Linked DNA regions of Homo sapiens. The protein of the gene in region 1 interacts with the protein of each later gene in a pairwise test. Each region holds a gene or a part of one and is shown on either strand. Other genes may lie near its edges.

What was found. Proteins that work in one complex are often made in the same cells at the same time.
Region 2: the proteins of RCN2 (region 1) and UNG interact in binary tests that used the Homo sapiens proteins (3 or more experiments, as listed by UniProt).

What each region holds. Positions count from the first base shown.
Region 1 is NC_000015.10:76,927,252-76,934,765, reverse strand, and holds the start of RCN2 (reticulocalbin-2 isoform a precursor), read right to left. Parts: upstream 3,018-7,514; 5' UTR 2,925-3,017; coding exon 2,781-2,924; intron 2,406-2,780; coding exon 2,300-2,405; intron 1-2,299.
Region 2 is NC_000012.12:109,100,595-109,107,621, reverse strand, and holds part of UNG (uracil-DNA glycosylase), read right to left. Parts: intron 5,721-7,027; coding exon 5,623-5,720; intron 4,784-5,622; coding exon 4,695-4,783; intron 4,190-4,694; coding exon 4,011-4,189; intron 1-4,010. UniProt on the Homo sapiens protein: Uracil-DNA glycosylase that hydrolyzes the N-glycosidic bond between uracil and deoxyribose in single- and double-stranded DNA (ssDNA and dsDNA) to release a free uracil residue and form an abasic (apurinic/apyrimidinic; AP) site.

The sequences.
Region 1 (7,514 bases):
TTTTTATTTATGAAGGTGACATAAAGTCTTCCTTTAAAATAAATTTTATGTGAGTTGAATTAAAACTATAGTAAGAAAATAATAGATGGTTAAGTAGATATGGCCTAAATTCTGAAAAGGTATTCAAGTGACTGAGAATACTGCTTCAGTATATTACCTTTAAATATGTTGTTAAAACATCTGGAGTAAATTTTAACGAAGTTATGGGTAGCAATTTATGCCCTTCCTGCAACAGCTATCTGTCTTAACTTGGTACCTGAAGGCATGGGAAAGTTTCTAAAATTCAAATGTTCACTTTTCAATCAACTTTTAAAAAATCTATTTGGCTGGGCTCAGTGGCTCACGCCTGTAATCCCAGCACTTTGGGAGGCTGAGGCAGGCGGATCACCTAAGGTCAGGATTTCGAGACCAGCCTGGTCTCGGGTAAAACCCCGTCTCTACTAAAAATACAAAAATTAGCCGGGCATGGTGGCCAGTGCCTGTAATCCCAGCTACTTGGGAGGCTGAGACAGAAGAATCACTTGAACCTGGGTGGCAGAGGCTGTAGTGAGCCAAGATCACACTACTGCACGCCAACATGGGTGACAAGAGCGAGACTCTGCCTCAAAAAAAAAAACAAAAAACTATTCATAAAAATATTTACTAAACTACGTTAAAGGAAACAAAGGGAGGGACGAACACGAATATTTGTGAGGACAGCATGAGTATACCATTTATCAGGTTCCTCTGTACATGTTGCCTCTAATCTTCAAAACAATGCAATTATAATCATCACTATTATACAGGTGAGGAAACTGAGGTTCAGAAAAGTCCAAGCCTTCACAACTAGTAAATAGCAGAGTCCAGATTCAAACCTGTCTGGCTTCAAAGCCAACTCCTACTGAGTTTTGCTACCTCTTAACATCTGATTCCAGACCTGGCCCTCAAAGAGCAAATTGCCAAAATTATCTTAAGGGTCCTCAAGTAGAATGAAGGCTTTCGTAAGCACCATGAATCTTTCTTCTAGTTTATTTAAAGAGATCACCATGGCATAGAAGAAAACAGAATGGAACAGGGATCAGAAATGTGGGTTCACACTTCAGCTTTGCCATCAGGGGGTAGTTTACCATCTCAAGCTTTTCTTCTCATCTGTATAATGAATATTTGGACTAAAACTTTTCTAAGTTTAAACTTCTTAAAACCTTACTATTAAATATTTGAACATATCTAGGTCTTGACAGATAGGTACCACGCAGTCTTCCAAATCAACGTGTTGTGTTCTTTGATTACTCTAGTATAACCAAAGATTGACTTATTCTTAGATTGGATAATCAGAGACCAAAGGTCTTGTTATTATTGTCTAACTAAGTGGAAGAAAAAAGCCCTTAATCTTCCAGAGGGTTCCAATGTGAATATGTCATTGACAGCACATCTTAAATTTACCAGTTTTTAATTGTCTCCAGCAACTTAATTCCTTGATGGTGAACAGCATTTAAATGAGAGTTACAGAAAAACAGCTAACTTAAGAGTCACAATAACAACCTGAATTTTTCTGAGGACCCACTTGGAACGCTGACAGGGAACATCATTTGAATTGAACAATGGGGAGAGACAACTGCACAGCAATTTATTTAGAACATTCTTTTAATAGTCTGTGCATTTCATTTCTGACTAGAGAATTTACCTGAGAGCATCAGATTTTTTTTTTTAACTGAAGGATATTAAAACCTGAATTAAGAGCAGGATACCTGGATTCTAGTCCAGCTTTGCCACTTATTTGTAGAAGGCACTTATCCCTGTGCTTCATTTCTTCATCTCTACAAAGTGATGTGGACAAGATGATCCCAAGGCCCCTACCAGCTCTAACATTTTGGTATAATGTTATAATAAACGTAATTCACAGGCAACAGGTCTTTTTCTACTTGCTTAAAAAAAGAAGCAAATTCCTAAAATTTAAATGAAGCATATATCAAAAGAGCGATAAATCATTTACTGCCTTAAAGTTTTGGGGCATATTTCTCTAAAATAAATCATATTGTTGACACTAACAAAAGTCACGTGAGAAAGAGGGTGTCTCAAGGTGTGACTTCCACATAGAGTACAGGGTCAATGATGTTTATATATAACTGGAGAAAGCACCGAGTTTTACTTGGTTCTCAGTGTCTAAAGATTTGTAAGTATAAAGCCTATTCTCCATGTCCTTTTCTCCTTCTCACAGGACTTCCAACTTGGGACACTAGCAATCTATACATTCAGCAGACACCGCTGCTTAACATATTTGTGTTTGTCTCCATTGTTAGTCGTGTAGGGCAGTCCTTACTTTCAGTGAGAAAGCCATCTGAGTCCAAGTCGATTTTCTTTATGATCGCCTGCAGTCTTTTTTGCTGCTCTTCGTGGCCGAGTTTAACATATTCATCCACATCTTCCTTTAGGGGGAAGCGACACACAGGAGGGCCAAGCATTACTATCAGTGGGGCAAAATGGTGGAGAAAAACAGGGCTACTAGAAGACCCCCTTGCCAAAGGGTTTCGGGGTGACCCGCACCTGCACTTCAAGGCCCCTACCCCCTACACACCCTCCATGATCTGAGGGGTAGAAGGGATCCAGCTCTTGGGCCGTGCTATCTCCTCAGGCTTTCCAGGCCCCAGGACCCCCAGAGAGCGAGTGCCGCGCCGCCCGGCCCCCATTGTCAGGCCGCCCCTGCCAGGCCTCGCCCGGCCGCCCCCCTTTGTCCCGGGACAAAGCCCGCGGCAGCCGCGGTGCGAGGCCCGGCCCTCCCAGCACCGGCCTGGCCGCCTCACCTGGACGCCCAGCAGCGCCTCGCGGTCGTAGTCGCTGCGGCGCTCGCCCAGCGGGTAGTGCAGCTCCTCGGCCTTGCCGGCGCCGGCCGCGGCGGCGCACAGCAGCAGCAGCCCCAACGCCGCGGTCCTCGGGCCCAGCCGCATCGCGCCGGCCCGCGGAGGACACCGAGGGACGCGAGGAGGGAGGCTGGCGGGGGCCCGGGCCGGCTGCGATGCTCCGCGGGCGGCTACAGAGAGGCGGTGCGACGTACGTTGAGGGCGGAGGGAACGGGAGGCGGAACCTGCGGTGGCGGCCACAACGCCCATGGACGGGCTGGGGGCCGGTCCACCAATGCGGTGCGGAGGCGCGCCAGGAGGAGGCCTATATGGCCGGCGCGGAGTGGCGGGGCACCAGGCCGCGCCGCTGATTGGGCAGCGCGGCGCTGGGGGCGGGCCGCCGCGATGTCGGGGTCAGCGGCCGCCCAGAGAGCTCCAGGAGCCATGCTGGGACTGCAGAGAGGGTAGACCTCTACGACCCGCGCCTTGTCGTTCCCCCGAAACGCTTCTAAAAGCACGCCCCCACCCCACTCCTGCCCACTCCTGGTCCACTCCATGTGCCCCTCCTACCGTCCATCAATGAGAGAGGCTGGAGGTTTCTGAGACAACAATACAATATCGAAAAAATTATTGCCTGAGGAATCGGCCAACAGTATTCTTTCTCAGTCTTCAATGTATCTATTTTATGAGAGTAGGACGTACAAACTCAGGAAGTGCAGCCAGATGCTTGTATCTGATGCTCAATTTCGTGATTTACAAGTTAATGTGAACTTGCTCAAATTTCTTGACCCCTGAAAACTTGTTTGCTCATCTATAAAATGAGCATAGTAATAAGACTACCTTAAAGAATTGTCGTGAAGATTAAATAATGTAATGGGTTTAGAACAATAGCTGGCACATAAGGTGAAGTGTTCAGTGAAGGTAGGCTTTCATCCATACAAGTAGAAAAACGAAAGATGATTGCACAGAAGGAATAGCTTAGTAAGTACCTAGCAAAACCTTTAGGGACAGAATGCATATACACATGGCTTCTATTCCATGTCTATTCACAGGTTTATGTAATTTCTCCACCTCAACCTGAACACATTAAACTCTAAGAAATTTGTAGGCTGCACCTTGAACCCTTTTCTTTATTGATTGCGCCACTTAGGATCAGGCCTTTCACAGAGAAGAAAAGGCTTTCTGGGTCCTCTTTCATTTCTCTCAGTCTCTATTTGGATTGGGAGCAAGAATTCTGTTCCAAACTGCAAAACTGGGTGGGCACAAGTCGCAGAAATTTCCTGGGTCGGGTTGAAATTTATGGTTTGGTCACAAACCATTGAAAGATTCACAGAGCAAAGTGTAAGTTCAATCTTTCCAATGTTATAAAGATCAACGAAGAACAAAGTTTTAAATTTCAGAATATAAATAAAAGCAAATTTTAGAGTTGATTTCATTAAACTAAAAAGAAAACCCTTTATTGCTGGATTTTAATTTTCACTTCCATTCTCGGTTTTGAGGAAAAAAAGAGAAAAATGTCCCAATTTAATATAAGAAACTCTGCTTTGTACCTGTTGTTCTCCAATAAGTAAAAGGTAAACTTTGACCAGCTTCCGGCGTGACTCCAGTTATAAAAGGTAGGCTACAAGGTACTGTGGAAGTTCTTCTAAACTCAGGGGATCCACAGATGGGAGTTTTGGGGGCCAAGGGAACTTAATGATATCTAAAGAGACAGTGGAGTAAGCAGTATCAGAAGGCTGGGTTCTGTCTTCAGCCCCTAAACAGGCTGTTTTCGCTCCCTGGGTCTATTGCTTTCATCTGGAGGAAAAGGATTGTGTTATCTCAGTGGATCTTAATTTGAGATCTTTGGGTTCCTAAGTGGTCCCTGCATGGTTTTCAGTGGTGTGTTTATCCCAAAATCTTGGTGCATGTGTATATTTCCAGGGAGGAAGTCTATAGCTTTGCTTTTATCAGAGTTTCAAAGGATCCATGTGGCAGAAAAAGTTAAGAGTCCCTGAAGAAGGCTCTGAGCAACTTTTTGACTCTTAAAATCAACGATTTTATTGGGATTGTTTGGAAGCAGATTACAGTAAAGGCCTATGCTTAAAAGAGGCAAGACTGATCCAATGTCATTACTTGTAATTAATCCATTCTACTCGGGGAAAAATAAATATCTAAAATAAGTAGCCTGTTTAAAAAAATGTGTTATGAGAATCCAAAGATCAATTTTCTTGACCTATAAAAGCCCATAGCATATAGCAAAATTGGTTTTATTTATATTTTTATTGAGGTATAATTTACCTAAAGTACACAAATGTTAAGTATACAGTTCAATCATTTTTTTAGATTTGTTTGCTGTGAGAGCCTTGAGGTAGGGAACTGTGTGATTTCTCCTAGTGCACCTACAAAAAAGAGGAACTCAATAAATTTTTGTGAAATGTATGAATTCAGCTATTCTGGCATTCTTTTAGAAGTATGTATTATGGGTAATAAAGTTAACTTTGAAACTATTGAAAGAAAGATTTGTAGATTTCTTGCTTTTTGAATTTGGTAAGATGTGTGTTACAATAAGCAGTGGCTTAAAAAACAAAGCAATATTTAACATATATGGCATGGACCCTTGTGTTACAGGCTGATTTCCACCAGAATGAATGAGATTTGGTACAATAAACAACTTAAGTGGGAAAGCCAACAAACTCAATGAGACTGCAGCTTTGCACAGATGGAAAACACAAGACAAAAGAACAGACTATAAGGCAGTGAATGGGAGAACAACTTAGACTGAATGACCATGCAATTAGGGGGATTTTGTTGGCTGTTTAATCTTTTGTCAGTCTTTTGAGGGGAGAAGGAAATGTGAGAATTCCAGGGTTATGGTGGAGTCTTAGAAGGTGACAAGAACATGTGTAGGTGGGTGGGTGTATTATAATGCCTTAAAAATCTTTTCATTTCCAAGGAGTATCTGAATGTGTAAGTAGTCACAAAATCTTTTAACCTATTAGAAGTACTTTCAAGAAATTCAATGTAACTTTTTCACTGAATAAGATTTCCCTAAATTAAAGATGGATCTGTCCCAATGATCAAATGTAATGATAGCTCCATCCTCAAATAGAAGCCATCCTCCACTTCCGGCAATTCACATTTATGGCCCTTGGTCAGTTATACTGGTGCATCTCTTGCCCTAAAGGTAGCCCAAGTGGACAAATATTAGAGTGCCTTCCTGACTTTCTCCCTATTCACATAGGGTGATCATACATCCTGGTTGACCTGACATGATTATTAATCATGACTCTTTCACACTCAAAAGTATACCAGAATGGGGTGATAAATGATATGGTCACCTTACTTTTGGGCCTCACATTCAAACTGTCCAGCCCCCTCCCTGTACTCCTCCCCAAGCCCCAGGCTTTATTATGCCTCAGAACCTCTTCCCACACTCTTTTCCCCAGGTTTTCAACAATAGGACCTTGAGGTCTTAGTCAAACACATTAGCAATAAAAATAAAGAACACTAAGAAAGAGGGCATGAAAAGAGGAATAAGACTGTGACTTAAGCAAGTGTTTCTTCTGAATTATAATGAAATTTATTTTCTTTGGCGTTACTAAACCAGCTCTGAAGACAATTTCATGGAGGAAATTCAAAGCTGAAACAAGCAGAGTGACTTTGAAAGACAGCACTTCTTGAATTTATAAGTTCTCGAGTGTTTAAGAAAACTCAGGCGTGGCTTTATAGTCACACCATGCATTCAAGTCTTAGGTATTCACAGATCTCACTGAGGAAGAGAAAATGCAGTTGCTCTGATTGCAGCTCCATCACGAGGTGGTTGGTGTTCAGGGGACTGTGATTGATTTGGGCTTTGGTTTTTTGATTCGGGATGAAACTCAAGTCTATGGGATTTTGAGGTTAATTTCTGTTTAAAAAATAAAACTAAAAATTGGCCAGGCACAGTGGCTCATGCCTGTAATCCCAGCACTTTGGGAGGCTGAGGCAGGCAGATAGCTTGAGCCTAGGAGTTCAAGATCAGCCTTGGAAACATGGCAAAACCCCAGATCTATAAAAACAAAATACGGAAAAGCATATTAGTTGGGTGTAGTGGCATGTGCCTGTAGTCCTAGCTACTCAGGAGGCTGGGGTGGGAGGATGGCTTGAGCCTGGGAGGCAGAGGAGGCAGTGAGCCGAGATCGTGCCACTGCACTCCAGCCTGGGCGACAGTGTAGAAACAAAGGAGTTACACAAGTTATGCATGCTTACTTGTTTATTTTTGCTTACTTGTTTATTTTAGGAAAATCAGTGTATGCAAATAAGAAAAAAGAAAAAAAGATCTCAAATCCCATTCTCATAAATAACTGCTATTAACATTGGGGCATAACTTTCCAGAGGTTTTCTGTGCACAGTATATACACTTCTAAAGGCAGTATCCTAATCCATTTGTGCTTCTAGAACAAAATACCTGAGACAGGATAATTTATAAATCTGTATTTATAATTTATAAAGATTTATAAGTCTGTATTTATAAATTTATTTATAATTTATATTTTATAAATTTATTATATATTAATTATATATTATTTATCTTTAAATATTATATTTAAATTATTTAAATTATATATTTATTTAAATTAAATATTTAATATTAATATTTAAATTAAATATTTTATTTAAAGTATTAAATATTGTATATATTTATATATTATAAATATATTATAAATTTATAAATTT
Region 2 (7,027 bases), on another chromosome or scaffold:
CCCAGGAGGGGGAGGCTGCAGTGAACTGAGATCACGCCATTGCACTCCAGCCTGGGCAACAAGAGTGAAACTGTCTCAGAAAAAAAAAAAAAAAAAAAAAAAAGAGGAATAGTCAGTGGCCAGGTGTGGTAGCTCACGCCTGTAATCCCAGCACTTTGGGAGGCCGAGGCAGGAGGATCGTTTAAGTCCAGGAGTTCAAGAGCCAGCCTGGGCAACGTGGTGAAACCCTGTCTCCACAAAAAAAAATACAAAAATTAGCCAGGTGTGGTGGCGCACGCCTGTGGTCCCTGCTACTCAGGTGACTAAGGTGGGAGGATTGCTTGAGCCTGGGAGGTTGAGGCCGCAGTGAGTTGAGATCAAGCCAGTGCATTCCAGCCTGGGTGACAGAGCTAGACCCTGTTTCAAAAGAAAAAAAGCAATAGTCATACATCACCTAATGACAGGGATGCATTCTGAGAAGTGTGTTGTTAGGCAATTTCACTGCTATCCGTACACCACAGGGCATCTTTACACAAACCCAAATGGGATAACCTACCACTACACACCTAGGCTATATAGTGTAGCTTATTGCTCCTGGTCTACAAACCTGTGTAGCATGTTACTGTACTAAATACTATAGGCAACTGTGACACAATGGTAGGCATTTGTGTATCTAAACATAGAAAAGATGCAGTAAAAATATTTTTTATATATATATATATACACATATATATATACGTATATATATATGTGTATATATATATATGTTTTTTTTTTGAGATAGAGTCTCACTCTGTTGCCAGGCTGGAGTGCAGTGGCATGATCTCAGCTAACTGCAACCTCTGCCTCCCAAGTAGCTGGGACTACAGGCACACGCCGCCACACCTGGCTAATTTTTTGTATTTTAGTAGAGACAGGGTTTCACTATGTTGCCCAGGCTGGTCTCAAACTCCTGAGCTCAGACAATCCACTCGCCTCGGCCACCCAAAGTGCTGGGATAACAGGTATGAGCCACCACACCCGGCCAGAATATTATAATCTTATGGGACCATCGTCATATATACAGTTTATGACTGAAACATCATTATGTGGCAAATGACTACTTTGATTTTTTTAAAATATCAACTATAGTTATTTTAACAGGGAGATATAGACCATTTTTGTTTTCCTCTTCTTTTCTGTATATAAAAACTAACGAACAAATCACTGTTTCTCAAAACACTCTTGCCTTCAAGGGGCTCAGTCCAGGAGGGGCGATGAGGGGTGAGGACTAAAGCCAGGCAATCCAGTGTGGTTAAGAGTACAGAGCCTGGAGCCAGACTGCCCGGGGTCGAGGCCTACCTCTACCCTCAGTAGCTGTACCACAGAGAAGTTGCTGCAACTCTAAGCTGCTTCAGTTTTCATCTGTAGACTGGGAATAACAATACCGCCCAGCTTATGAAGTTACTGTGACCAATCAAATGAGGATCACAGGGGCTGAGTGTGATAAGAAGTCATGCACACCAAATGCTGAACACACACGCAAGCAGCACAGGCCCCTGTAAATGTCAGCCCTGCAGAGCTCTAAAGAATCCCAGAAGAAAATGACCTCTACACTGTAGGCAGAGAAAGCAGGATATGCAAAGGCAGGGAAGTGGGGCACCGTGAAAAAGTAAAGGGGAATGGGTCAGCCTAGGGATCGGAGTGCAAAGAGGGATAGAGTTAAGTCTGGGAGGCCGATTGGGGGCCACCCCTCTACCCCCCTGAAATCAGATCTTCAGCCTAAGGCAAGGCCTTCCAGGGAGAAAGCATCAGAACCCTCCAGGCAAGATCAGGTGAGGGCCTGAATGAAGGCAAAGGTGGTCAGGCAGGGGTAGATTTGGAGGGGGAAGAAAGAACACAGATATGAATGACTGACTGACTGGGAAGGTGGAAAAAAAGGACAGAAGAGGGGAGAAAGAGAGGTAGGCAGGTGTCAGTAATAGATCTGGCTGGACAACTGGGCAGATGATGGTGCTTTTTGCTGCTAGGGAGTGCAGAGGAGGAAGTTTAGTGAAGCATGGATGAGAAAAGGAGAAACTTCGTTTGGAAAATGTTGAATTTGGCATGTTCATGGGGCAGTAGTAACAAGGCACTCTATAGATCAGAAGAGACACTGGGCTGGAGATATGCAATTTGGCTTTAATGACCAAGCTACTTTAACAACTGTTTACTTTCAGACCAAACCATGATTAAAGATTACCAATATACTGCGGAAGAGCAACACTGGCCGTAAACCTCCCTAAGGGATAGAGATTAGCAATTACTCTCACGCACACTTCTTACATACCTAGATGATCACATCTTAGCAGTTCATACCAGTCAGATCTTAGGTCACTCATACAAGTGTATGCCTACCTCAAAGCCTTTCTGAGAGTTAAGTAAGATTCTGCATGCAAAGTACTCAACCTGGTCGGGTGCGGTGGCTTACATCTGTAATCCTAGCACTTTGGGAGACCAAGATGGGAGGATCGCTTGAGGTCAGGAGTTCAAGACCAGCCTTGTCAACATGGTGAAACCCAGTCTCTACTAAAAATAAAAAATATTAGCTGGGTGTGGTGGCAGGCAACTGTAATCCTAGCTACTCAGGAGGCTGAGGCAGGAGAAGTGCTTGAACCCAGGAGGCGAAGTTGCAGTGAGCCGAGATCATGCCACTGCACTCCAGCCTGGGTGACAGAAAGACTCCATCTCAAAAAACAAAAGTGCTCAACCTAGTACCCACACAAGGTAGGGGTTAAATATACGTGCACATTTCTGATACCCCCGTTACCTCCTGCTGATACACCAAAAACTATTGTCAGGTTACCTCTGCTAAGCCCTTGCCTTCGATCATTGAAGCATTTACTCTATAATTTCTCCCCCACCCAATGTCTCTCCCATTTGCCAGGGATGAACACACCCCTGGCTCGTCTCCTTCCCACCCCCTATCTCTCCCTCCTCCACTCTGCGGCTCTCCATCAAGCCTCCATCTCTAGTCCATCACGGTTCTCCTGGAGAAAGATGATGGTGACTCATGCCTGAAGGGCAGCAGTGGCGAATGAGAAGCAGTAGACTGGGGTGTTTTGGGAGGCAGAGTTGATGGGATTTACTGATGGGATGGAGGATTCAAGGATGACTTTTAGGTCTCTGATTTCCACAACCAGGTGTAGAAGTGCTTCAGTGAGTGAAGGGAAAGAGGGAGGTAGCAGATAGGGGGAAGATGTAGGGAGGGGAGCCACTGGTTTGGTCGTGTTGGGTATCTGCAATTAGACCTTGGGGTTAATAATGATCACCGATAGGCCGGGTGTGGTGGCTCATGCCTGTAATCCTAGCACTTTGGAGGTTGAGGAGGACAGATCGCTTGAGGTCAGGAGTTCAAAACCAGCCTGGCCAACATGGTGAAACCCTGTCTCTACTAAAAAATAAAAAAAAATCAGCCGGGTGTGGTGGCGGGCGCCTGTAGTCCCAGCTACTCGGGAGGCTGAGGCAGAATCACTTAAACCCAGCAGGCGGAGGTTGCAGTGAGCCAAAATCATACCACTGCACTACAGCCTGGGCAACAGAGCGAGACTCCATCAAAAAACAAAAAACCCAGAAACAAAACAATAATGATCACTGATAGTATTTTCATGGGCAAGTTAAATTTGTGATTGAGTGGAATTCTTTGTGTTTTCTATATGTTCCCAAATTTCTTGGAAGCCAGAAACATGCCTCATCCATCACTTGTTAAGTGAATGGTACCCAGGGACTTGTATCTTGTAGACACCAAGTTCATGCCTACAGCACCAACTGCATTCAGTCACAAGTTGGCCAGTTGCTTTGCTTTCCTCATACACAACTCATCACCCCTATAATTTGTCCAAATTCTTCTCAGTTTTCAATGGGAAACCCTTATAACAGGCCTAAGGGAAAATAAAAGTTATTTTATAACATGGATTTTCCAGGACCAAACACAGCAGGGACTCCTAGAATTCTTTACATTGTTTTTATAGTGTTAAAAAAAAAAGAAAAAAAAGAAAGAAAACAAAACATACCCTATCAATGGCACTGCCCTTCTTCTGAGCATAAGAGCCCCAGAGCAAGAAAACAAGGCCATTCGAGTTCTGATTTAGCCAGGACACAACTGCATCAGTGAACTGCTCCCAGCCTCGCTCCTTATGAGAGTTGGCTTGATGGGCACGAACCGTGAGGACAGCGTTGAGAAGGAGAACACCTATACACATGAGAGAAACAGGTTAAATGTAGGCTCAGGCAAATCAGCCCAATACCCAGCAACAGGAGCTAAATCCATGATGAAACCAATGCTTGATGGGATCCAGTGTAGCAAGCTGTGCTTCCCTGCTGCAGCCGGCATAATGGCAGCAGCCACTACCATCAACAATGGAGTCGGGGCTGGGCGTGGTGGCTTATGCCTGTAATCCCAGCACTTTGGGAAGCCGAGTCGGGCGGATCACCTGAGGTCAGGAGTTCGAGACCAGCCTGGCCAACATGGTGAAACCCTGTCTCTACTAAAAATACATTAAAAAATTAGCCAGCTATGGTGGCTCATGCCTGTGGTCCCAGCTACTCAGGAGGCTGAGGCATGAGAATCGCCTGAACCTGGGAGGCAGAGGTTGCAGTAAGCTGAGATTGCACCACTGCACTCTAGCCTGGGCAACAGAGTGAGACTCGGTCTCAAAAAAAAAAAAAAAAAAAAAATCTAGCAGTCGCTGGCTTACCTTGCTTGGCCCACCCAGATAAATCTCCATGGCCAGGATGAACAAAATCCTCTATGTCTGTAGACAACTCTTTATAAATGTTCTCCAAACTGAAAGCAAGCCACAAGAAAAACAAAAAACAGAATCTTAAGCATAATTTTGAAAGCTCAGTAACGTCTAAGACATATGTGAAAAGGTTAGAAGTTACAGCCAGCCCTTGGAAGGGACACTGGCACATATGGCGCCGATTAATGAGATCAACACTGCCAGTCCTCCTTCTAACAGGTGACTCTGCCAAAGACCTTTACTTTAGTCTGTACTTGGATTTAACAGCACTCTGGAAAACCTAAGTAAATCAACCCAGCAGTTACAACCCAGACCCCCACTGTTGCTCAGGGACAGTTTTCTGTCCTTAGCATATTTATGTATATCATACACCAAATCCTCCAAAAGCAGTGGTTCTTTTTTTTTTTTTTCCAGTCTTGCTGTGTCACCCAGGCTAGAGTGCAGTAGCAGGATCTCGGCTCACTGCCACCTCCGCCTCCCGGGATCCAGCGATTCTCCTGCCTCAGCCTCCCAAAGTGCTGGGATTACAGGCGTGAGTCACCGCGCCCGGCCCAAAGCAGTGGTTCTTAACCAGGGGTGATTTTACGCCCCCAAGGGACTTTTGGCAATGTCTGCACATTTTTCATTATCACGAGCTGGGGGTTGCTCCTGGTTTCCAGTGGTAGAGGCCAGGGATGTGGCACAAGATCCTGCAATAGCACAGGACTCCTCTCCTCCTCCACAACAAAGAATGACTCAGCCCCAAATGTCAATGGTGCTGAGGCCGAGAAATCCTCCTCCAAGGCTAGTGAACAGTGCCCCAGATAGTCCCACTTGTAATAAGCTAAGTACACATCTGAAAGGAATCATGTCTGGACTGCAGTCACCTGTAAAGCAACTGTACCTGGGCGGAGGCGGAACAGGCCTTTGAACACTAAAGCAGAGCCCGTGAGCTTGATTAGGTCCATGATATGGATCCTGTCCCAGGATGACAACCTTCACCTGTGAACCACCAGGGGTCAGGAATTAAACAATACTGTAATGTAAGCAGCACAGACCCTGCCTCAAACAAACATAAACAAAACAAATAAAACACTTCTATGGCATAGATTGCTAATAGCAGAGTTGCTGGTCAAAGGCTAAGCGTATTTTAAACTTGTAAAGATATGTACCTAGCTGCTTTTTTAATTTTTTGAGACACGGTTTTGCTGTGTTGCTCAGGCTGATGTGCAGTGGTGCCATCACAGCTCATGGCAGCCTCGCCCTCCTGGGCTCAAGTGGTCCTCCCACCTGAGCCTCCAGAGTAGCTGGGCCCACAGGAGTGCACCACTATGCCCACCTAATTTTTTTTTTACTTTTTGTAGACACACGGCCTCCCTTATGTTGCTGAGGCTGGTCTCAAATTCCTGAGATCAAGGGATCCTCCCTCCTCGGCCTCCCAAAATGCTGGGATTACAGGCATGAGCCACTGTGCCTAGCCCCCAGTTACTTTTCGATGAATTAAAGCAATTTAGGGCCTGGCATGGTGGCTCACGCCTGTAATCCCAGCACTTTGGGAGGCCGAGGTAGGCAGATCACGAGGTCAAGATATCGAAACCATCTGGCCAACATGGTGAAACCCCATCTCTACTAAAAATACAAAAATTAGCTGGGTGTGGTGGCGCACACCTGTAGTCCCAGCTACTCGGGAGGCTGAGGCAGGAGAATCGCTTGAACCCAGGGGGTGGAGGTTGCAGTAAGCCGAGATTGCACCACTGCACTCCATCTCAAAAAAAAAAAAAAAAAAAAAAAAAAAAAGCAATTCAGATTTCCCACCAGCAGCATATGAGGGTGTCTGCTCCCCTATATCCTCTAACAGGTGGAGCCAGAAGAGAATGAGGTCAGATCAAAAGGGCCATGGGAGTAGGTGGCAAGAGACAATGAAATGAAATGAAGTTCCTGTCACGGGAGGTGTTGAAACATAGGCCGCCTCGTCCTTCCCATCCAGGGCCCACCCACCTAGTCTTCATTCTCAAGCTTCTGCCATTGCGTTCTTAGAATCTTCCTCCACAGCTGACATACTCTATCTTTCAGAATCCAGCTCCAGATGTTCCATGACCAGGAGGCTTTTGGGGACCTCTTGTCCCTCCCCTTGGTGTTCACACCATGCCAACATATTCTCTTGTGAAACAACTCTCCCAATGCTGGTCTGTCAAGAAGCCCTGCTGGCCCATCTGATCCTCATAGGTTTGAAACTGGTTTTTGAGCATTCCCTCAAAATATTCCTTTTAATATTCCCTGTTTATACTGATTACTGGTATTCAGAATAG